Linked DNA regions of Homo sapiens: region 1 is linked to region 2. Evidence: fine-mapped expression QTL. A gene starts in region 2. The other region holds a variant in brackets. All regions are shown on one strand. Distances are from middle to middle. Region 1 overlaps VWA3B (von Willebrand factor A domain containing 3B). Region 2 holds the start of C2orf15 (chromosome 2 open reading frame 15).

What was found.
Region 1: its variant is fine-mapped to the expression of C2orf15 in whole blood (INTERVAL, PIP above 0.99).

The regions. Positions count from the first base shown.
Region 1 is chr2:98,231,797-98,244,221 of GRCh38, forward strand. VWA3B (von Willebrand factor A domain containing 3B) reads left to right here. Exons shown (of 28, transcript NM_144992.5): 17 at 2,852-2,971; 18 at 4,594-4,681; 19 at 4,778-4,934. Among named protein-coding and RNA genes, the nearest start is that of CNGA3, 110 kb to the right of the region's middle. The variant G/A (reference allele first, on the strand shown) is at 7,088.
Region 2 is chr2:99,138,275-99,150,699 of GRCh38, forward strand. It overlaps C2orf15 (chromosome 2 open reading frame 15), which reads left to right and starts at 3,433. Exons shown (of 4, transcript NM_144706.4): 1 at 3,433-3,663; 2 at 4,011-4,127; 3 at 9,128-9,219; 4 at 12,209-12,425. The coding sequence starts at 12,285. The region is part of intron 1 of TSGA10 (testis specific 10); the gene reads right to left. RefSeq lists silencers at 2,693-2,762, 2,833-3,142 and an enhancer at 3,364-4,170.

The sequences.
Region 1 (12,425 bases), 910 kb before region 2:
TGATTTTCAAATGTGGAAGCAGCCTTGTATATCTTGGAATATTTCCCACTTAGTCTCAGTGTATAATTATTTTAATACATTGCTGGATTCCGTTTGCTAGTATTTTGTTGAGGATTTTGGTATCAAAGTTCATGAAAGCTATTGATCTATAGTTCTTTTAATTTTTCTTTTTTAACACTGACTTCATCCAGCTTTGGTATCAAGCTAATAGTGTCCTCACCAAGTGGGTTGGAAAATTGTCCCTCCTCTTCTATTCCTGGGAGAAATTCATGTAATTCTTCTTTGAATGTTTGGTAGAGTTATCATGGAGCCATTTCGGCCTAGGGATTTCTTTTCCAGATTTTTCATGATGAATGCAATTTCTGTAATGGTTTTAAGGATATTGTCCATTTCAGCTTGGTCGAGTTTTGGCACTTTGTGGTTTTTCAGTAATTGGTCTATTGTTTCTAATTTATCAGATTTATGAGGGCAAAGTTGTTTATTATATCCCTTTGTTAGCTTTTTAATGGCTGCAAGATCTTTAGCAATGAACTCTTGATATTAGTGCTTTGATCTGTCTTCTCTCTTTTTGCCTTTTTTCTATCTAGCTAGAGGCTTTCTTGCTTTTCTTTCTATTTGTTCATTTGTTTCCAGAGAATGTATAATTAATTGTTGAAGCACTTTTATGGGTAGCCTCTTTAAAATCCTTGTCAGATAATTCCAGCTCCTGATTCTTCTTGGTGTTGGCATCATGCATTTGCTTTTTCTGATTGAAGGTGTGATTGTTTTTCTAGTTACTGATATGATGGGTGATTTTTGATAGTATCTTGGACATTTTGTCTATTATGTTAGGAACTCTGCATCTCATTTAAGTATTTTATTTTATGAAGTAGTCACCCTGTTTAAATTTAGCATGTGGGCCTTGACCTACTTTTGTGGGCTGTGGTTCTGATGGCGATTTAATTTTCACAGGCTCTGTGGTATTGTTAATATTTTGGTGCTTGTTTTTATGGTGTTTCTGGGGCTCCTACTGGTCCCTGCTGGTGCTACCTGAGGTGGCAGCAGGGATCCCCTCAGACCAGGATGTTAGATGTCTCTGAGGGGAGAGTTGCAGCAGCTTCCCCCAGTGTTGTCTCTGAGGTGTCCCCACATTGCTGGCAGGGAGGAGGGCCTTGAACCCACAGGGACCAAGAGGCGTCCCGGAAAGGGCCGCTAACTGGAGATTGGCCCTCTTGCTCCTGCTATCTCTGTACAAGGGAGCAGCATCGTACATGGGAACAAACAGCCTTCCCACACTGGCCACTTGTGTGGCTGCATCCCTTTTTCCAGTCCTGCCTGCCTGTTCCAGTGAACCTGAGTTTTGCCAGAGTTGCTACTTGTCTTAAACATTTTAATGGCCAATTGTCACTGCCACCATTTCACTTAGATTTGGGTTGCTCGGTATTGGGAGACAATCATGTGCTGAGTTTCTATTTTGTTTCCATTGGTGATGTAGAGGAGTGGTGAAATGCCATGACTGATCCTACAGAGTCCGGGGAGGGGCTAAATGTTTGATTCCACTGCTAGATAAATGTTTCATTCCGTATTTGTGGCCTTTGGGAATGGTATAGTTTTTATGTTTGGAGACTTGGGGAGCTAAATTTCATTTTCATTTGGCTCACGTAAATCTGATTGTTTTGCCTGGTAATGTTGGTCAAGGTGGGCTGCCAGTGTGGACACTGGCAGGAGCTCAGCTCTCTGATTTGGATTGTTTATCTCTTTTTCTCACAGACATAGCTTCTAAGGAAATTTAGCTTTCTTAGTTCCTGGGTACAGAGACAATCAAGGCAGGGCTTACCCTTTTGTTGCCTAGAAAAACAATGATTACCGTATAGCACACTCCTTCTCTATGCATGGAGACCACTGGTGTTAATTTTCTGTGTGAAAGCTACCCATTTGCAGATTACTAGCTAATCTTCACTCTAACTATCTAATTTCTTGTAGGAGAGGGTAAGTCCTCTCAGTGAAAACACAGACACATTTCATTCACGAATGCTGACATAAAGCCTTGGAACTAGGTACTTCTAAAGCCTCCAAATTATGAAGTACAGACTACATTACAATTAGTGTGGTTTATGTTATCAAATATAAAAAGTAATCAAGATGACTTGGCACAGGCTCATTGTCCTCTAAAGCACACAGATTCAAGGTCAATATTTGCTAAGTTGTCATTTGCCTGTAGAAGGGACACATCACAGGGTAGAAAATAACATAAGCAAAGATCTGGACAGCAATTGTGGTGGGCAGAATTTCTAGAATGGCTTACCAAAGATGTCCTGCCCTGAACCCTGCAATCTTTGAATATGATGACACGTCACTCTCATGACCAGGTTATGCTGACCTAGACAGAGTTATCTAGGTGAGTCCAGTGTAACTGTGGGAACTGTGAAAAGCAGGGGCTATTTCCAGCTGGTGGCAGAAGAGAAAGTCAGACAGATTTGAACCACAAGAGGAATTCAATGTGCTATTACTGTCTTGAAGATGGAAGAGTCGTGTGAGAAGTAATACAGATGCCTTAAGCAGCTGAGAGAGGCCGCTGGGCTACAGTCAGCAAGGAAATGGGGCCTCAGTCCTACAATTGCAAGGAGCTGGGTTCTGCCAGCAGCCTGAATGAGTGTGGAAGCTGACTTCTCTCCAGGAGGGGTCCAGCTGAAATTCAGATAAAGGGAGCAGGGCATCCTGGCAGCATTCAGTTTGTGGCAGCACCATCCTCAGAGGGTTGGGAAACAAAGGTTGCATTCTTACTTTAAGGAGCTGATAAAATAGTTATATCTAATGAAGTATCTCCTTCCATCCCCAATTCCTTTAACTCTTCCCTCTGTGATACCAACAGAATCAACCAAAACCAGCCTGCTCAGAAGCCAGATGTCCTCCCTCAGGAGCTCAGCTTGCAGTGAAAGGAAGGATGGCCTCTCCAATGCCAGCAGCCGGAGGACTGCTCTAAGTGACAAAGGCAAGCCAGAAAGCATCTCTGTGGCCAACCAGCCTCCCTTTCCACAGTGTATCTGTTCCAGAAAGAGCTGCGTGTAGATATGTTGGGGAAATCATATTTTAAATGGGCCCAGATTGCTTCCTATTCAAAGGAATCCCTTGTAAGTCAGGTCTGCCTGCTTTATGACCTGGATTTTCTGAGAGCTGGCCTTGTGCTTATGGTGCCTGGGTGTTTAATACACACGTGGCTCACATAACTATGGTCATGCTGCTGCCCCTCCATGGTTTGATTTTGAAACTGTCATATTTCATAGTTGATTTTTTTTCTTCCCTTTCTTCAATGGATGATGCTATCAGATGAGCCCCTCTCTGGTCCAAATTGTCAGCCTTTTGGGGACTGCATATGAGGAAAATGTGATTTTCCCACTCAATTTTTATTACTATTGATAAAATTATTAATCTTAAAGTAATAAGTTTTGAAACGTTTGATGCCTGTAACATTTTTCTTTTATTTCAAATGGTTGATACATTTAAAATCCCAGTTAAACACACACATATACACACAATCCCCTAGGGAGTAGGAAGTGGCTGAGTAGCAAATGTGCCCCTGTGGCTACACAGTCATAGTTTAATTTAGAACTCTGTTTTCTTCATTGCTGATCTGTCTGATATCTTTTCCTCACTTTTTTTTTTTTTTTGAGGTAGAGTCTCACTTTGTTACCTAGGCTGGAGTGCAGTGGCGTGATCTCGGCTCACTGCAACCTCTGCCTCCACGGTTCAAGTAATTCTCCTGCCTCAGCCTCCCGAGTAGCTGGGATTACAGGCAGCCGCCAACAGGCCAAGCTAATTTTTGTATTTTTAGTAGAGACAGGGTTCCACCATATTGGTCAGGCTAGTCTCAAACTCCTGACCTCAAGTGAGCCACCCGCCTTGGCCTCCCAAAGTGCTGGGATTTTGGCCGGGCACAGTGGCTCCCTTTCAATTAACCTGCCATATTTCCTAAGTTGTCTACATGCACATTCCTTAAAGGGCTTATCAAATGATGATTGGGATATGATTTCTTAGCTAGTTAACTAGCTCACACCCAAACACGCCTCCTTCTGAATGCTGCTCATTCAACAAATATCCCTTTTCATTTATAAATACACATTTATATAAGGATATATGTAAAACCCCAAATATTAATTTGAAAATTTGAACTTACAACTAAACAGGACCTAACAGGTTTTTTGGTTTTCTACAGAAAGCTGAAGAACCACTAAACAATCTATCAGAAATTAAAATGTTGATCAAGGCTCTCATATAATTTGGGGGAGTCCAAAAGGTCAATATTGAACAATCATTGGTTAATGGTATTTTTATTGCACACTTTTTAGAGGTGTGTTTTCTGAATGAAAGAATGAATATGTCTCATTGTCTCAAAACAGTGGTAGTGCCGTATTTACCCATGCATTGGTCTGTAGTGTAAATTGCAAAGGAATCTTGCCTGAGAGCCCGCTCTGACAAATCAGGATATGTTCTCTGAAATGTGGTCCATTTATTAGCTCTCAGTCACAGCTGGACTGAGACAAGCGTGATCCCTTTGCATTTTATGTAAAACCCATATGTGAGGAAAATATACAACTGCCACTTCCCCTTCCACAGAAATGAGCATCTTGCTGGCTGAGGAGTGGCTGGATGACAAATCGTCAGAAAAGGTGACGCGAGAAGGAAGCCAGGTTTATGACCACGAGTGAGTTCTTTAATTTGACAAAGACAGTTCTGTTATGCTTCTGTTGGTTAACCATCAAGTTGTAAATTTTAAAACACCACCTCCTTGTGTTCTTAGTTCTTCAGATGTGTCTTCAGAAAACTGGCTGAAGACCTATGGCTTGGTCGCCAAGAAACTCACCCTCATGGATGCCTTGTCAGTGGCAGCAGTCCCGCACAGCTCCACCTATGTTCCCGTCCTGGACAAGCATGTCGTGTCTAAGGTCTTTGATGAGGTAAACTGATTGTCTATACGTCCCTACTTGAGGCCATTTTCATTTTCTGCTCAAATAAAAAGTAGTCCAATTTCTTGTGTGGTTGTAACAGAAATGTATTTTAGCCACTGGGGGAAAAAGTATTTGTAAAGGCAGTAAAAGGGAGAGAGAGAGGCTTTTAAGAATTTGGGCGCGGTGGCGCATGCCTGTAACCCCAGCACTTGGGAAGGCTGTGGTGGGTGGATCCCTTGAATCCAGGAGTTTGAGACCAGCCTGGGCAACATCGTGAAACCCTGTTTCTACAAAAAATACAAAAATTAGCCAGGCATGGTGGCATGCACCTGTAGCCCCAGCTACTTGAGCCACTGAGGTGGGAGAATCGCTTGAGCCTGAGACATCGAGGCTGCAGTGAGCGGTGATTGCGTCACCGCATTCCAGCCTGGGTGACAAAGCGAGATCTTGTCTCAAAAACAACGAAAATAAGAATTCTCTTTTTAAGCTGAGAGAAACTGATCTTGGTTGGGTTGGCACTTCGTGGTTCGTTGCTAACGGATAGAAGTGTGGGGCTGCAGAAATGATTGAAAACTCTAGGTCAGAGTCATGAGTGAACATCAAATATCCCTTTATGAAAGGAAAGGGAGGACTTGCGAGAGATTATGTCCTTCTTTTGCTTACCTTCTCTTCCTAAATTGAGTGGCATCTTTTGTAGCTAAAGGAAAAAGTTAAGAGAGCAAACAAGCAAGCCACATGTTAGCAAAAGAACCACCAGATTGTCCTAGGCCGGTCCCGAGAGGAGAAAAACAGCTTCCAATGGGAGGGCGTGGTAGGGTTAAATGTGGAGGAAGGCCAAGGAAGTACTGAAAACTTAACACTGAATTTGGCAACAAGGAGGTGCTCATCTTTACAAGAATAATTCCAGTGGAACGGCATTACTGCAGTGGGATGAAGAACACCAAAAACATGAGAACATGAAGACGGAACCTCAGTGCTTCCAGGCAAATACAACAGCAACTAACGATTTAAATAGAAACATTTCAGTCTTTGCAGTCACTGAATGGAAACAATATCCTTAAAAGACCTGTCTCATGCTGAAATCTTTGCAGAGGAAATGATACAATGCTTGGGGATGCTTGGGGTTTGCTTTATTGTAATTGGGGTGGTGGAGTAGTGGGCGGGGGAGAGTAGATGAAATAGATAGACCACACGTTGATCATTGTAGCATTTGGATAAGACTTAGTGAGAAGGGTCGTTTTACTCTTCTTTCTGCTTTTTTGTGTATTTGAAATTTTCCATAAAAAGAAGTTGAAAAGATCAAAGGCAGGAGAAAGTTTTTTTAAAAATGAAAAGACCTTTTCTAACTGGCCTTGAAATAGCTGAGATTTGATGTATTGGGAGAAGCAGATGAATTGGTGAATTTTATTCTATTAGCACATTTTAAAAATTATCACCCATGGAGGCTCACCTGCCTGCTGGTTTGGGATGACCAGTGACTCTCCCTCCGGAGGCTGTGTGTGTGTTCTCCTCTAGGCTGGTTCCTGGCTACTTTGCCTCAAGGTGAGTGCTCCTGTCCCTGGCTGTTTCCTTGTGATTGGCAGATTTGATTTATACCTAATTAGTCAGATGTCAACTCACCACTTGAACTTGACTTCTTCTAGAAGCAACAGGGAGAAACTGAACCCTAATTTATTTCTTGTAGGAGGTTTGGGGACAGCTCCTTCATATTCTCTGCAGTTATATTACTATTCTTGAGTTTTATTTGGGACGAAATATATTTAGTGAACTCTACTTAGAAATAGAATTTTCTTGGGCTTATTATGCCTCCTTCTAAATGTCCCAACAACTTGAGGTAGAGTGAAAAGTAAATTTCTTGAAAAAAATATGGTAGGATAGGGAAGCAGAAGCATAAAATCCAAGGAAGAAACAATAAAGGAAAGATTTATAGGCTGAGTAGGTAAAAATGTTATTTTGCTTAAAAACATGTAAATAAAATGAAGACAAATCTCAGAAAAATACCTGCAACATACATGACAGACAAAAAGGGCCATAGGAGTGATATCTTACGTGTGTGTATCAGTATAAAGCACCGTGTTTGTATGAATCAGTGTTCAGTATGCAAACACACATGCACATACATCCATACCATAAGGGAATGAGAAAATGACAAATACTGGAGT[G/A]GAAATTTTAGGGAAAAAAAGGAAAAAAGTCAAACTCATATACAAAAATATTTAACTTTACTGGTAACCAAATATATGCCTTAAAAAATGCAAATTGATAATCAATTAGACACCACCTCCCCCATCAAATTGGTAAGGTTAAAAATCACCGATAAACAGTAATGGCAATGACAGGGTGGGATGGACACTTATATCCTGCTAGTGAGAGTATAAATTGGTGCATCCTTAGTGTAAAATGTTCAGAAGCCTTAAGAACTTATATTTACCCCAGCGAATTCATATATTACTAGGAATCTATGTAAGGAAATAATTAGAGATACTGAAGTATATGTGCAGAGAATAATTACTACAGCCTTTAGCCAACAATGGAAAACAACACAAATTCATATAATGGCATGTCATACATTCATCAGATATCACATTTCTAAAGAATAAGTTTCACACGATGAAAAGTCCTCGTGCTAAATGAAATATCGTGCTAAATGAAATATCATGCTAAATGAAAAAAATCAGAATATATAGTGTGTTAGAAACTTGGTTGTTCATGTGACTGATTTAGGCATGGTGGTACTTTCCCCTTCCCTCCCTTTTTTCTTTTACCAAAATGTTAACAGTTTAGCTGGGTGGTGAGATTGTTGGGAGATGTTTTTTTTTTTTAAATTTATGTAGCTTTTAATTTTTATTGTAGTACTTTTAACTCTGAACATTATTAATTATACACTGAGAAAAATGTTAAGAAAAACAGACCTGGCCAGGTGCGGTGGCTCACACCTATAATTCCAGCACTTCAGGAGGCCGAGGCAGCGGATCATTAGGTCAGGAGATCGAGACCATCCTGGCCAACATGGTGAAACTCCGTCTGTACTAAAAATACAAAAAAATTAGCCAGGTGTGGTGGCGTGTGCCTGTAGTCGCAGCTACTCGGGAGGCTGAGGCAGGAGAATTGCTTGAATTCGGGAGGCAGAGGTTGCAGTGAGCTGAGATCACGCTACTGCACCCCAGCCTGGCAACAGAGCGAGACTTCATCTAAAAAAAAAAAAAGAAAGAAAGTGAAACAGACCTGAAAGCAAATGACAAAATGATGTAAATGTAATGGGAACTTAATTTTTAATTAACTGCTTTATTTTTATCTGATAAGTAATATATGAATAATTCTCAGTATATGAGATTTAAGCCATACTTAAGTCTTCAGAGGAGGCTTCTCTCACCACTACGCCTATCCATGAAGGAAACACGTTGAATAGTTTGGTGAATTTCCTTCCAATCCTTTTTCTACATATGCATATGTAAGTATGTGCACACATAACGTATTTATACAGAGACACATAAGAACTTTAATAAACATGAATAAGACAATACCATATACATTTACTATTTTAAAAACTATTTTAAACATTTTGTCTTAGAGCCCTTTCCATACAGGTAGATGGTCTCATGCCTATAGTTGCAAGGTTCTTCCCCATTATTAATGGATATTTACATTGTGTTCTTCCTTCCCCTCTTACAAACATTCCTGTAACAGGTATCTTTGCACGTAGATTTTTGGGCACATGTATAAGTCTGGCTTTGGAAGAAATTCCCTCAAGTCAGATGGCTGGACCCAAAGGGTATGTGCATTTTAAATTTTGATAATTCAAATCATCCCCCAAATTCACTGTACATTTTCACTAGCATGTATCCCCACAGACAGAGTAAAGTAGTACTCTCTTCCTAAGAAGAACTCTGTGTAATACTTGATAATCATTGGTCCTTGGTGTGTAGAAATGCTTTGAAAACCCTGAAAGTAGGATGCAGACATAAGATCTTTATTCAGCCTATTCTTTCCTCATTGGTTCATATGCTGAAGAAGCAAACTTAATATTCAGTCCAACAGTTAGAAATTTTTTTCTCTGAGATGTATGTGATATATCCATACTCTGTGAATAATAATATGCCTACTCTGAGGTTGTTATGGAATTAAAAGAAGTAATGCATACAGTGTAAAGTACTTAGCAGGCACTTAAAATGTTGACTTTTATTATAAAAATATTCAACAAATTTATGCCTATTGTATATGCCTGTGTTGGGCTCTAGAATACAGTGCCAAACAGGAAAGCCAACATTCCTACCCAAGCACAACCGACAGTCTCAGGAGGAAGTAGCAATGAAAATGAGAGAAGTTCTAGTTAAATGTGACGAGTGGGAAGTGCTGAGTGAAGATGCAGGAGATGTCCCTCACCTGGCTTCAGTGGCCACAGAAGGCTTGCCTTAGCTAGTGGCATCGGAGTTCAGACCCAGGGGAAGAGAAGGAGTTATGAAGGTGGAGAGATGGGAAGAGAGCCCCAGGCAGTGGGGGAGCTTGGGGAATCCTAAGGAACAGAGAATGTTTGTCATTCCAGAGAAGTTTAGTGTGAGTGGAGAAGGTGATAAAGCTGGTGAAGGAAGGGCCTTGATTGAATTAAGGATTTTGAACTTCATCCTGAGGGGAATGGAGGGGTTGTTAGCAGAGGAGAAATTAATTTGGGGTTTGAGCTGGCACACAGAGAATAGTTGGAGAGGCGGGCAGTCAGGAGGCAGTTGGGGAGATGGGGGCAGTCAGGAGGCAGGGCTGGGTGGCTGGAACCAGTAGGCTGTGTGGCTGAAACACTGCGGATGTACCCAAAGCTCTTTATAAAGTCAAGTCAACGATGTGGGGCTGAGAGAGAGAAAAATGCCAAGAGTGATTCTCCAGACTCCAGCCTGGAATATCAAGCAGGGGAAAAATAAAGAATGAGTAGTGAGGGTCTTGTTCTTCAGGGGGGCATCCTAGTCGTCTGCCTCTAGAACACAAAGCCCAGGGGAGGGGATGAACAGTTCTCAAGCACATCCCATGGGCACTTGTGCTTGGTGCCTTCTGTGGCATTGTGAGTTCTCAAGACAGCCTGCACGTAGGTAGGCACTGCACAGCACACTTGCCCTCCCTTATTCATAGTAAGAATCACTCTGATGACAGGCATATACTGCAGTGATCTCCAGTCTCACATCCAAAGCACTTTTGTATCTTTGATTCCCTAATATTTTCTCTGACTGGAAGACACCCTCAGCTATAAATGGAAAGAATAACAAAATAATAATCTCAAATATCTCCCACCTCATGGGATGTATACCTTTTTGATGTTTGGACTTTTATGAAAAAGCAGACAAAAAGTAGAATGGAGTTGAAAAGGAAACACACTAGAGTCTTACTTCACTGAGAATCTTAATTGCGTCCTCCTCCTGTGTTCTGTGCACGGCCACATCTGTCTGCATAGAGTTGTAAAGCAGTGTCTGGCTTTGTCCCCAGCTCTTTGTTTCATTCATCACTTATGTATGGGCTCTTTCTTCTTCTGGAACACAATGCTGTTTTGGTTTTCAGTGTTTCCCGGACCAGCCTCAAATCGGTCACCTTGGAAATGAGGTATTGAGCAAAGAGGTTGCCCTAGCAACTCTTCATTACAAGATGCAAAATGGACTCGATAATTTTATCTTAGCTCTTTCAAAAAGATTAACTCTTCCCCAAGTCATATACACAATAAAACTGATTTAGCTATGTAATGAACCTAGAATTTAAAGCTCTTTATTTGCTGGTTGATTTGAAAAGCATTGAAATAATTTGGGAAAATTGGTCTGCACCACTGGAGAGTCTACATCATCACCCATCATCATTGTCGTTATCATAATGTCTTTTACAGCATCCCATCAAGGCTTCCTGTGTTGTCCGTCCTTCTCCGGGTTCTGCACATAGCTTTGTGGCCAGATAGCCTGGATTGGTGCTCCAGCTCTGTCATTTACTCCTGAAGGACCATGGCAAGCTCCCTAATCTAGTATGCAGTGCACCCTCATCATATACTAGGTTCTGAGTAAAGCATTTGCTATCATCAAATATCTCATCTAAAACTTAGAGTGACCTGTGAGGTGGCTATTCAGCTCACCATTTAGCTGACAAGGAATATTTGGTGCAGAGAGGCTAGGGGTGCTGTCAAGTCATGACATTTTGTTGCTTTTAAATATAATAGCAATGAACACAAAACTGTACACTGATAGAAAAGCTTTTTAATTAAAAATTTAAAACAGTTATCACAAAACCTACATATGTATATATTCAATGTATAGAAAGATTAGAAAATGTAGATAAGTGAAAAAGAAAGAAGCAATAGTTATCATCCACCTCATCATCTCATGGTTATCTGGCCAGATCTTCTTACTTTCTGTATATAGATATCCAGACCCTTTGTTCTTTGTTTTTGTTTTTATCATAATTAAATGAAACTGAACATCCTGTTTTGTACCTGCATTTTTCAACCACCTATCCATGAACATTGTTCCATGCTGGCATATACTTATCTACTATACCAGTTTAAATGCTCAGCCTTTTAATTGAAATATATTAATTTAAACTTAAATTGAGAATAGAGTTTTATTTTCTACAAGTTTAGATTGAAAAACTGTGAGATGTAATTTTTTTTTTCTTGAGATGGAGTCTTGCTCTGTTGCCCAGGCTGGAGTGCAATGGTGTGATCTCTGTTCACTGCAACCTCTGTCTCCCGGGTTCAAGCAATTCTCCTGCCTCAGCCTCCCGAGTAGCTGTGATTACAGGCACGCACCACCATGCCTGACTAATTTTTTTGTATTTTTAGTAGAGATGGGGTTTCACCATATTGGCCAAGCTGGTCTTGAACTCTTGACCTTGTGATCCACCTGCCTCGCTCTTCCAAAGTGCTGGGATTACAGGCAAGAGCCACCATGTAATTTACACTTAGTAACATACTCTCATGGGTTTATGAATGATCTTACTGACATGCGATTTGGCCAGCTGTTTTGTGGCCCTGCTTTCATTTTGTTCTATGGAGCCTGCAGGTGTTTCAGTTTGAAAGGCAGACATTTAAGTTTTGGCACTTGGCCATTTGCACAACTGTAATATCTATAAAGCTGTTGCACCTACATTCAAAGATTCCCTGTGTGGGATTTACACAGCTATTACATTTCCATTACACACATCCAATCAGAACCTCTCCTTGGCCAATCTGGTAGGAAGCTCTGGGATATTTACTGGAAGAACTGATTTAGTTGAAAAACAGTGAAGTTGGAGAATTCAGTCAGAGTTGAACAATAGATAATCACCAGTTTCACACTAGTTTCTCAATTTCAAAATGTTTTGTGATTGCTTTTAAACACAGCTAGAATGTTGTCAGGTGGAATTCGACCTGTTCTACTTTAACAATCAATAGCTGTGGGCACAGTTCTGTATTCTGTGTTCTTAATTTAGCATATGTTATGAACATTTTTCCTTACAATAGCCATTTTGGGATGAATTTTAGTGATTACACTAACATTCAGTAAT
Region 2 (12,425 bases):
TAAAGTAGCCTCTCTCCTAGTCACTCTCTCAAATAAGTGATAAGCTATTTGCACTTATCACTACTTGAAATTATATCATTTGCTGACTTGTTTACTATCTCCCCATACTAGAATATAAAATTCAAGAGCTCTAGGCTTTTGTCTTGTCTCTGTTTTATCCCTAATGCCTTAAAAGTGCCCAGCACAAAGGTGAAACGCAATAAAACATTTTCAAAATAAGAAAATTTAATGATTCGAACAAAGCAGTTTCAATGGTGGGTGAAAACAAGTCTGAAGGGGACTAATGAATGAATAGTAAAGAAAAAGAAATGGAAAATGTAAACTTCTTTTAGGAAGCATGATTGTGAGAGGAAGAGAGGTACAACAAAGGTGGAAGACAACCAAGGTTGTGGAAACGTCATTATGGGAAGAGAAAAACTTGTTCCTTAATTCTCTTTACATAAGGATCCTCTTTCAGAATTAAAAGTCCTGCATCCTCTCCTCAGAAAAATGCAAATACACCTTTACAAACAATTTCAGGGGATTTAAGACTCTATAAGGTCCTTGGACTCCAGGTGAAGAAGCCCTACAGTACAGAAACAATGAAGATTCCTAAGGCATGAGTTAATGTTAATTGATGGAGAAAGACAGCTGAGGTAATAAGAGGAAACCCAGATAAAGATGTATTGCCCCGACACAAGAAAGACAAAAGCAAGGACAGGTGAAGATTTAGACACTTGTAATCCCAATAATCCCAACACTTTGGGAGGCCAAGGCCAGAGGATCACTTGAGCCCAGGAATTTGAGACCAGCCTGGACAACATAGTGAGTTCCTGTATCTACAAAAATTAAAAAATAAATTAGCCAGGCATAGTGGCATCCACCTGTGGTCCCAGCTACTTGGGAGGCTGAGATAGGAGAATCACTTGAGCCCGGGAGGTCAAGGCTGCAATGAGTCATGATCGCACCACTGCACTCCAGCCTGAGCGACAGTGAGATCATGTCTCAAAAAAAAAAGGTAAGTGTCATGGAAATCTGAGGAAGTTTCTGTCTGGTTGAATTTTAATTTTTCAGTGAAACAGGAGCTAAGATTATATAATAAAAAGTATCATCGGTGTTGAGCAAAATATGAAGCACATAATATGTATTCAACAAATTATTGATTTTTTGATAGAATGGAAAATACTGGAGTACTTCAATGGAATTCTGAAATCTGGTTCCACAAAAGCTTACTACAGTTGAGGTGGGTTTTTCTTTTTAAAAATATTGTCTCCAAAAGTGTAGACTTATAGACATTGAAGTAGAAAGGAACTGCCTCACTAACAGAAGGATGTGGAAAACCATACAAGATTTATGAATAATTCTGAGAGAGTATTTTATATAATAAAAATAAGTGGATAAATATTTTGGGAAACAATCAGCAAACTAAATACTGCGAGCAACAATAAAGATTAATCTTAAAAAAAATGTTGAGTAAAGAAGCAAGATGTAAATGAATACTTAGTACAATTCCATTCGAAGTTCAAAAACAAGCCAAACTGTAATGTGCATGTTCACATACAATGATGTGAAACATTAAGGAAAATCAAGGAAGTGGCTATCTTAGAAGTCAGGAGAGTGGCTATCTCTGGGGAGGGAAAGAAATATGTAATCTGAAAAGGTGATAAATAGTAATACCTCTAACTGCCTCTGTGTATGGAGGACTTCAAAACCAAATCGTCCTAAACAAACTAGTCTAAGCAACTCAAAAAGAAGACAGAAAAGATCTCCCAGAGAATCTCTACACCTGATTATATTCTGGGCTACAGGCAGTGATTTTTCTTCAGAAGGTAAACAGTACGCGAGATATTGTGGAAGCTGCCATTAAATAATGCCAAAGTTTAGGATTTAAAATTAATATTTAATTAATGTACCGTCCTAGTTATTTCCCACTAATTAAGACTGAAGAGTTTGGCTCATTAATCAATTAAAATACAAACAAGAATCTGTCTTATCCTGGAAGCAGATTCGAATGCGACATCCTACTTCTATAACTAACCTGTTTTTTTCTACTTACAAACCTATTGTTATTCTACTTATGTCCTTACACGTAAACAAAGTATACTTGAAATGCTGAACACCAGTACAGAAAATTTTAAACAAGGAAATCTCCTAGGATATAAGGTCCTGGAATGGAAGAAGGAAAACGTTGGGACACTATAATCTATGCAAACTTTCCCGAAGCTGCGAAAAAAAAAAAGTGAAAAAAAACCATATTTCTGTGAGTTTTTAGGTATCAAGTCCATGATCACCTAGTTATCCAATTTAAGTCTCAAATAGTTTTTCAACAAAAGCCAGCTTTCCCTGCCTTTACTGTGTATAATTTTTACTAAAATTATCTGAGATTTTCATGCAAATGCCTATGTAATCTCAGCCTTTCACCACCCCAAGTCTAGAAAGAGGCTCAGAAATGAGCGATCGGGAGTCAGGCTGAACTCCCAAATCTGTGACTTCCAAATTCCTCGGCTCCACCAGAGCTTCCAGAGCGTTTCTAAACTGAACAGTCTCCCCAACAACCAAGCGGAGAGCTGCGGGAGGACGCGAAGCAGTGACCATAGGAACTGGGCTCAAACCTAACCTCCCAAGAAACAGGGGCAACTCGTGCTGCCGAGCTTCCGGCCGGCAGCTGTGCCCGCCGCTGCCCCTCACAGCCGCTCCCGCTGCTAGCGCCCAACTCCGCCCGCCACGGCCCCGCACCCGCCACTCCTGCCCGCTTGCAGCCGCCTTCTCAGAGACCTTCCAGTCCAGTAGCAGCACTCTCCCCACCCCGCGCACCTCCGCAGCTTCTACCTGGAGCTCCGGGTCCCTCCCCGGGCTCCTCGGCCCGCCGTCCTGCCCAGAGCTCATCCCCGCGACTGTCAGCTCTCGGCCTCAGCGGGGGATACAAGAACCGCCCACTCTCCATCCTCCGCCCCTTTCTCCTCCCTTCCCACCCCCAAATCGTCCTGGCCCCGCCCCGGCGGATCGGAGGAAGGACGGAGCCCGCGGGAAGGAGGAGGGGGCGGTTAGCGCCAGCCAGTGCCGCCGTGGCCCCGCCCTCACGCTCTGTACCGGAGTGGGGCTCGTCTTCCACCTCCCCGGCGCCCCAGCTTTGCTTCCGTCCCGCTCGCCCCCAGGCCCGGTGCGCACGCGTACCTGGCTCGACCTTCCTTCTCGCGGGGTCTACAAGCCGTGCGCGCGCTCCTACGCACGGAGCGACGCGTACGTCTACCTGCCTGCCTTACAGGGCACCTAGGAGGGACCCCTTCCTGGCCCATCCGCGCCGCGCAGGCGCACGCCCACGCAGCGCCTAGACGCCCGAGCCGAGCGTCCCGTCTCCTAGTAACCAGCCGCTAGCCCCCTTTTCCACGACTCATTTCTTAATCTCTGCCTGAGGCTGCCGCACCTGGATGGAACGCGCATGCGCAAGGCTGTCTCTCGCAGCCCCGCCTTCCCTCAGCTTGAAACACCTGCTGCTTCGCGGCGGTGGCTTTGTGCCACTTTTCCCAGGGCTTGGGCATCATTCTGGACCCATGTTCGGTGAACCGGTTACTCTCAGAGCTGCTTTCGGGCGCAGCTCCTGCTGCAGCCAGGGCCCGTTTTAAGAGAGGCTTCCAGGTCCAGCCCTCCCGCTGCAGCCTGCAGGGAGCGAGCCGGCCTGTCCCGGTGAGCGTGGGCAGCCTGGAGTCAGGGGAGCCTGGGGACCACGGCCTTGGTCAGCTCTGCACGATCAGGGCTGAATCAGGAAGTGGCAGATCTAGCAACAAAGTCCAGATTCCTGACCGATATTCCTTCTCCACATGCCAGTCCTTTTCCAAATCCCCTCACCTTAAAGTGACAAATGAGCTTTTTAGTGAAAAAGAATGAGCGCTGCATTCTTCTACCAATTTTTTGGAGCCCAGAATGGGGGGGAAAAAAGTCTTCTTAATTTTTCTTAATACCTACCATGTCCCTTCTTAAATAACTCAAGAGCTTCTGGATGATAATGGTGACTTTATCTCCTTTTCCTGCAGATGACATAGACACTAGGTTTTTACAGCAATTCTCTGATGACCTTGATATGGTAGAACGCTGTGTATTTCAAGAGTAAGCTCTCGTTTGAGGAGACTAACAATTCCTGTTTTCGCCAGGTGAGTACTCATTTTTCCCCCCACAAGATATCATTGGCAGGGATAAACAACTTTTGTGTAGAACAAATTTAGTCATAAAAATACATTTAATATAAATGCCATGTTTTTCCAATGTCTTTTCATCGTGTTATTACATGGTCTCATATTTTGTCGCATTTATTTTCAGATATCATATACTTTGTAAGTATAATTAGATACCAAAAAAAATTAAGTGTCCCTGTTATTTTAGATTAAGAGGTTAGAGGACACAAGGAGCACATATCCTCGGAAATGTAATTTTTTAAATGCACAAAATAACAAACTGAGAAGTTATGTTAGAGGGAATAATGTATAATCTCATTTCCTCTTCAGATACTAAGATTATTTTGAATACATTATCTAGCATTATTAAAAACAAATAGGAAAGAATGTTCTAAGTTTAAAACTATCAGCTGGAGTTGAAGACTTCGGGGGTGGGGAGATTATTAATATAGGAAGTAGGAAAGTACTTCCCTTATAGAAAGAATAAGAAAAGTTTAAGCACTTATGTATGCCACCTAGACGGTACTGAAGATTATTTGGAAAGAATATAAGGAAATGATCATTTTAAGGCCAAAAGAGGGTGAAAAGATTTTCCTTTTTTTTCCTATCAAGAACTGTTGACTTTCTCCCCTAACCTGAGAAAGTAAAAATTTCCTTCCCTCTGTGGAAACCCAAGGGGTAGTGAGTGTCCCACCCTGCCCCAACTAAACCTTTTTTTTTTTTTTTTTTTTTTTTTTGAGACAGAGTCTCACTCTGTCGCCCAGGCTGGAGTGCAGTGGCACGATCTCGGCTCACTGCAACCTCCGCCTCCCGGGTTCATGCCATTCTCCTGCCTCAGCCTCCCAAGTAGCTAGGACTACAGGCGCCCACTACTACGCCCAGCTTTTTTTTTGTTTGTTTTTTGTTTTTTGTATTTTTAGTAGAGACAGGGTTTCACTGTGTTAGCCAGGATGGTCTTGATCTCCTGACCTCATGATCCACCCGCCTCAGCCTCCCAAAGTGCTGGGATTACAGGTGTGAGCCACTGCGCCCAGACTTTTTTTTTTTTTCCTTTTTTTTAAGACAGAGTCTCACTCTGTTGCCCTGTACCCAGGCTGGAGTGCGTTGGCATGATCTCAGCTCACTGCACCCTCCACCTTTCAGGTTGAAGCAGTTCTCCTGCCTTAGCCCCTTGAGTAGCTGGGACCACAGGTATGTGCCACCATGCCCAGCTAATTTTTGTATGTTTTTGTAGAGATGCGGTTTCACCATGTTGCCCAGGCTGGTCTTGAACTCCTGGACTCAAGTGATCCACCCACCTCAGCATCCCAAGTGCTGGGATTATATGCATGAGCCACTGTGCCTGGCCCAGGCTAAGCCTTATATAGTACCCTGTGCTTGCTCTCTCGTGACAGACACCTTCTAAGGTCTTGGTTTTCTAGTCCCTTAATTTTTCCATCATTTCAAAAGCTTCACTACAAAAACCTCTGTTATTACTATTTTTTGTTTTGTTTTCACTGTCCTCTTCCTGATCCCCTCAAAAAAAAATCTGGGACTCCAATTCCATATGTGTTAAGCCACTTGATCTTGTTCCACAGCTCACTGATGCTGTGTTCCTTTTTTTTGTTTGTTTTTTTGAGATGGAGTCTCGCTTTGTCTCCCAGGCTGGAGTGCAGTGGCGCGATCTCCGCTCACTGGAAGCTCTGCCTCGCGGCTTCACGCCATTCTCCTGCCTCAGCCTCCCGAGCAGCTGGGACTACAGGCGCCCACCACCACGCCCGGCTAATTTTTTTGTATTTTTAGTAGAGACGGGGTTTCACTGTGTTAGCCAGGATGATCTCGATCTCCTGACCTCATGACCTGCCCGCCTCGGCCTCCCAAAGTGCTGGGATTACAGGCATGAGCCACCGCGCCCGGCCTGTGTTCCGTTTTTTAAATCAGAGAGTTTCCTCCTTATGCCGAGGCCTGAAAGTTCCAGGCAATGTCCATTCATAGGGCTCACTTTATTTCCTGTTTCTCAAGGATCACTCTCCCGAACTGCCTGTTGTCCAATATCTAAAAGCCATTGCTTCATGTGTTTTGTGTTTTGATGCTGAAAGCAGGCGGGGCACGGTGGCTCATGCCTGTAATCCAGCTACTCGGGAGGCTGAGGCAGGAGACTTGCTTGAACCCGGGAGGCAGAGGTTGCGGTAAGCCGAGATCGTGCCATCGCCCTCCAGCCTGGGGGACAAGAACAAAACTCTGTCTCAAAAAAAAAAAAAAAAAAAAAAGATGCTGAAAGCATGAGGATAAGTCTGGTCTCTGTTACTCCATCATGACTAGCAGCAGAAGTCTGCCATTCTTCACAGTTCCAGGCCCCATGTCACTAACTATCCTCAAGGGATGTGGTTTGCAATGCAAAAATTGCTTCAGGCTGGGGGAACTGTAAGTGCAAAGGTCCTGAAGCAGGAGAAGGTTTGGCATAGAATATGCTTGAGGAACAGCAATGGGGTGATAGGTCTGGGGTCGAATAAGGCAAAGAGACAGGAGAGAGTGCTTGCTAGTAGAGTTGTTTGCTACGGCTGTGCAACAATTTACCACACACTTGGTGTCTTTAAGCAACACAAATTTATTATCACACGGTTCTGGAGATTTACAAGTTCAAATTGGGTCTCACTGGGCTAAAATCAAGATGTCAGGCAGGTCTACATTCCTTCTGGAGGCTCTAGGGGAAAATCCCCTTTCTTGCCTTTCCAGCTTCTACTGGCAGCCCATGTTCCTTGGCTTGTGATCCCAGTCTATATTCAACGCCAAAAATGGCCAGTCAAGTCCTCCTCACATTGCATCATGGCTAACACATTCTACCTCCCTCTTTCACTTCTAAAGACTCTTGTGTGGCAGGTGCGGTGACTCACACCTATAATCCCAGCATTTTGGGAGGCCAAGGCAGGTGGATCACTTGAGGTCAGGAGTTCAAGACCAGCCTGTTCAACATGGCAAAACCCTGTCTCTCCCCAAAAATACAAAAATTAACTGATCGTGGTGGCAGGCACCTGTAATCCCAGCTACTTGGGAGCTGAGGCACGAGAATCACTTGAACCCAGGAGGCGGAGGCTGCAGTCACCCTAGATCACACCACTGCACTCCAACCTGGGCAACAGAGTGAGACTCTGTCCCAAAAAGAAAAAAAAAAAAGACCCTTGTGATTACATTAGTACCACCCAATTAATCCAGGAGAATTTTCCCACCCTCAGAGTCAGCTGATTAGCAACCTTAATTCCCCCTTGCCACATAACATAACATAGTCCCAGCTTCTGGGGATTAGGACAAAGACATCTTTGAAGACTATTATTCTGCCTACCACAGCTGGGGACCAGATATGTAGATAATTTTTTTCTCTGATATGGGAAGCAACTAGAGTGTGTTGAGCAGAGGACTGCTGTGATCTGGGTTTTGTTATAAAAGGTTCAAACCAGTCCAGGCATGGTGGCTTACGCCAGTAATCCCAGCACTTTGGGAAGTGGGAGGATTGCTTGAGTACAGGCATTCGAGACCAGCCTGGGCAACACAGTGACACCCTGTCTCTACAAAAAAAATGAATTTTAAAAATTAGCCAGATGTGGCCAGGTACGGTGGCTCATGCTGTAATCCAAGCACTTTAGGAGGCCAAGGAGGGCAGATCACTTGAGGTCAGGAATTCGAGACCAGCCTGGCCAACATGGCGAAACATCGTCTCTACTAAAAATACAAAAATTAGCCGGGCATGGTGGCAGGTGCCTGTAATCCCAGCTACTCGGGAGGCCTCAGCAGGAGAATCATGTGAACCCAGAAAGGCGGAGGTTGCAATTTCTTTGCAACTTGAATTTCTCTGATTCCTAGTTAATTATCTGTTTGGGATTCCTCAATCTGTGAATTATGTTTTTATATCCTTTGCCCATTTTTCTATTGGGTTTTCTTTTTCCTTGCTAATTTCTAGGTGTTCTCTTTTTATTCCAGCCATTAAATACCATCAGCTTTGGACACAGAAAATATCTCCTTCCAGTCTCTTATCTATCTTTTTGTTTATATTTTTTTCATTGAATAGAAATTCTCAATTATGAGTAATCAAACTCACTGTTTTCCTCCCTTATTGTTTAAGCTTTTTAGTCTTGTTCAAGAAATCTTTCTTCACTCCAAGGTAACAGATATTTTCTTCTATTGCATTTACAGTTCTGCCATTCACATTTAGGTCTTTAATGCATTTGCACTCCACTTTTTTTTCTTTTTGAGACGGAGTCTTGCTCTGTCGCCCAGGCTGGAGTGCAATGGTATGATCTCAGCTCACTGCAACCTCCACCCCCTGGGTTCAAGCGATTCTCCTGCCTCAGCCTCCTGAGTAGCTGGAATTACAGGCACCCGCCACCACACCTGGCTAATTTTTGTATTTTTAGTAGAGACAGAGTTTCACCATGTTGATCAGGCTGGTCTCGAACTCCTGACCTCGTGATCCGCCCACCTCAGCCTCCCAAAGGGCTAGGATTACAGGCGTGAGCCACCGCGCCCAGCCTACTTCTGTGTTTAAGATCCTGCTTATGTCCACATAGTTAGCCAATGTTCACGATACCATCATACTAAACTTAGTCTGTTCTATCTCCTTTGTCTTATAGTGCCACCTGTGATATATGTGAAGTTCCTGAAATACCTAAGTCCAAGTTACAGCTCTGTCATATTCTACTGATTATTTGTTCCTGTACCTGTACAAGGTTATTTTTATTACTTTCACTTTGTGGCATATCTTTTTGTTTTTTTTAATTTTTTTCTGATAGGGATGAGGTCTCCCTATGTTGCCCAGGCTGGTCTCAAACTGCTGGACTCAAGAGATCTTTCCACCTTGGCCTCCCAAAGTGCTGGAATTACAGGCGTGAGCCATTGTGCCCAGCCGCGTAGCCTATCTTAATATCTAGTAAAGAAAGCCACTTTGTTCTTTTTCTCCAGATTGATTTATCTCTTTATGTACCTTTATTCTTACATATATATTCCAGATTTCTTCTTGAATGGCAACCTAAATGCCAGTCCAAAGAGGCCCCCAATAGACTTGTTCACCCTTCATGTCCTCAACTCTGGGGAAGTTAAGGTAAGACTCACAGGGCCAAGTCTACCCTATTATACTTGGTTCCTCCTCAGTCCTTTTATTAGATTGAAGTTTAATGTGCAAATTGATAATTATATGTTACCATTCTTTTACGTTTGTTGATTTCAAATGCCATGTTTTAGAGTTTTGTGTTTTTTAAAACGTTTTTTCAATTTTGTATTTTGAAAAAGTTTTAAACCTACAGAAATGTAATAATAATAATATGTAGAACAACTTTTTAAGCTTTACCTCCTAGATTTAACAGTTGTTAGCATTTTGCATATTTTACTGTCTTTCTGTATCTATGTATCTATCTATCTATTGCTAAACAATTTGAGGGCAAGTTGCAGATACAATTCTTCACCCCTAACTATTTCAGTATGTATTTCCTAAGAACAAGGACATTGACTTATATAACCACAATACAATTATCATATTCATGGCATTTATCACATTGATCCAATATTATTATCTAATATTGTCCCATATCCAAATGTTTCAGTTATCTAAGTAATGATCTTTGTAGTACATTCCATCCCCTTCCCAATTCAAGAGCATTGGTTGCATCTGAAATAATGTATCTTTAGCCTCCTTTAATCTGAAACAGTTCCTCAGCCTCTCTGTGTCTTTCATAACATTGACATTTTTAGGTAGAAGCTATTTGTTTCATAGAAGATACTTCTGTTTGGGTTTATCTGATTGTTTCCTCATGTTTAGATTCAAGTTATGCATTTGACAGGAGTATTTCCTTTCTAAGAAAAAGAGAAACCAAATAGAATAAACTCAATTTTATTCATTTGAAGGCAGTATTAGATATTCCTTTGATGAGGAAGAAAAATTCATCTTCAAGTTCCAAATCTAAAAATCAAATATACCCATATTTCAGAATTTCATCAGAGATATTAAAAAATTTAGCTAAGTTGTATTTGAGTCCCAGAAAGCCAAATATATACTATTTACCTAATTGTTATATTAATATTTGAGTAAGTACTATATTTAGGCTACTACAGTAGACCCAGGACTCTGTTTTGTTATAAACACTGATATTCAGTCACAAATATGGATAAACAGGGTTTCAAGATGATTCTTTAGAAATGTTCAGTCAGTAATTACAGCTTGATGAGTATGAAATTGTAAACTATCAAAGATACCACAGTAGGTAAATATTAAAGACATAATACATTCTAAAAAGTGGGTGAGGCTGAGCGCAGTGGCTCATGCTTGTAATCCTAGCACTTTGGGAGCTGAGGTGGGTGGATCACCTGAGGTCAGGGGTTCAAGACCAGCCTGGTCAACATGGGGAAACCCCGTCTCTACTAAAAATACAAACGTTAGAGTTTCTGTTTGGGATGATTAAAAGTTCTGGAGATGGATGACCATGATGTTTGCACAAAAATGTAAATGTACTCAATGTCATTGAATTGTACACTTAAAAGTGTTTAAAATGGTAAATGTTATATATATTTTACCACAATAAATAAAATATAGACTGGAAAAAAAATAAATAAAAATAAAAATAAAAATACAAACATTAGCTGGGCCTGGTGGCGGGCACCTGTAATCCCAGCTACTCAGGAGGCTGAGGCAGGAAAATCACTTTAACCTGCCGGGTGGAGGTCCAGTGAGCCGAGATCGCACCACTTCACTCCAGCCTGGGTGAAAGGGTGAAACTCCATCTCAAAAAAAAAAAAAAAATGGGTGAGGGATTTCGATCGAAGCTGTGGAATCTGCTCCAGATCTCAGGTTGCTACTATAGCATCTTGGGTAGATCACTCTTCTCCAGTAAGCCCTGGGCTTTCTCAAACCTTTTCTGTACAGGAAGCCTGTCCCTTCTGCCATCCTGGTCAACTCTGCCTACCAAATTCCTGCCCATCTTTGAAAGCGAAACCCTAACCTAGGCTCCCCTCCTTTGGGAAACTTCCCAAGGCCTCCCTCCATGCTACATGATCATCTTTTTTTTTTTTTTTTTTAAGACGGAGTCTCGCTCTGTCGCCCAGGCTGGAGTGCAGTGGCGCGATCTCGGCTCACTGCAACCTCAGCCTCCCGGGTTCACACCATTCTTCTGCCTCAGCCTCCCGAGTAGCTGGGACTACAGGTGCCCGCCACCACGCCCGGCTAATTCTTGGTATTTTTAATACAGATGGGGTTTCACCATATTAGCCAGGATGGTCTCGATCTCCTGACCTCGTGATCCACCCACCTCAGCCTCCCAAAGTGCTGGGATTACAGGTGTGAGCCACTGCGCTCGGCCGATCATCTCTTTTTACAGACTAGACATCCTTAATCACAAGTATCTTTTTTTTTTTTTTTTTTTTTTTTAAGACAGAGTCTCGCTCTTGTCGCCCAGGCTGGAGTGCAGTGGTGCAATATTGGCTCACTGCAACCTCCGTCTTCCAGGTTCAAGCTATTCTCTTGCCTCAGCCTCCTGAATAGCTGGGATTTCAGGTGCATGCCACCACACCCAGCTAATTTTTGTATTTTTAGCAGAGATGGGGTTTCACCATGTTGGCCAGGCTGGTCTCTCAATCCTAACCTTTGGTGATCCACCCGCCTCGGCCCCCAAAGTGCTGGGATTACAGGCGTGGGCCACCGCACCCAGCCAATCACAAGTATCTTTATAGGACATCTTTATTTTTTACAGAAAATAAAGTACTAGCAGAGTACTTGGCCTTCAGTCGTTATTTCTTTAGCCCATTAGTAATGAATAAAGAGGTTTCGCTAGCAAGAATGAAAGAAAGGACTAAGAGAAGCTCTACTATTTTCTGAAAGGTGATAAAACATACAATCAGATAAATTTCCTTTTAAAAAGACTTTCAAATAAATCTTTAGAACCTGCAAACCCTCCCACAAAGAAAATGTAAACACTGAAAGGTAGGAGGCAATTTTACTTTATATTTCTAGTATCACCACAGCTTTTCATTCAAACAAACATTGCCATGAAGTTAGGGAAATTCCTGCTGCATTCACTTGTTACTTTTTTTTTTTTTTTCAGTAATCAAGTTGAAGAAACACTTCCACTACTTAAAAAGGTACCTGCAAATTACTTTCACATTTGTTCAGCTATCCTAATGGGATTTTCACTTAGTAAATCTGCTACTCAGGTATCTGCTATACATATGGATTCAAAAGTGGATGATCACTTAATACGAGGGACTGAAAAAAGCAGGTTGGAACCAGCGACTCAGTTATTTCAAAACACCAAGAAAATA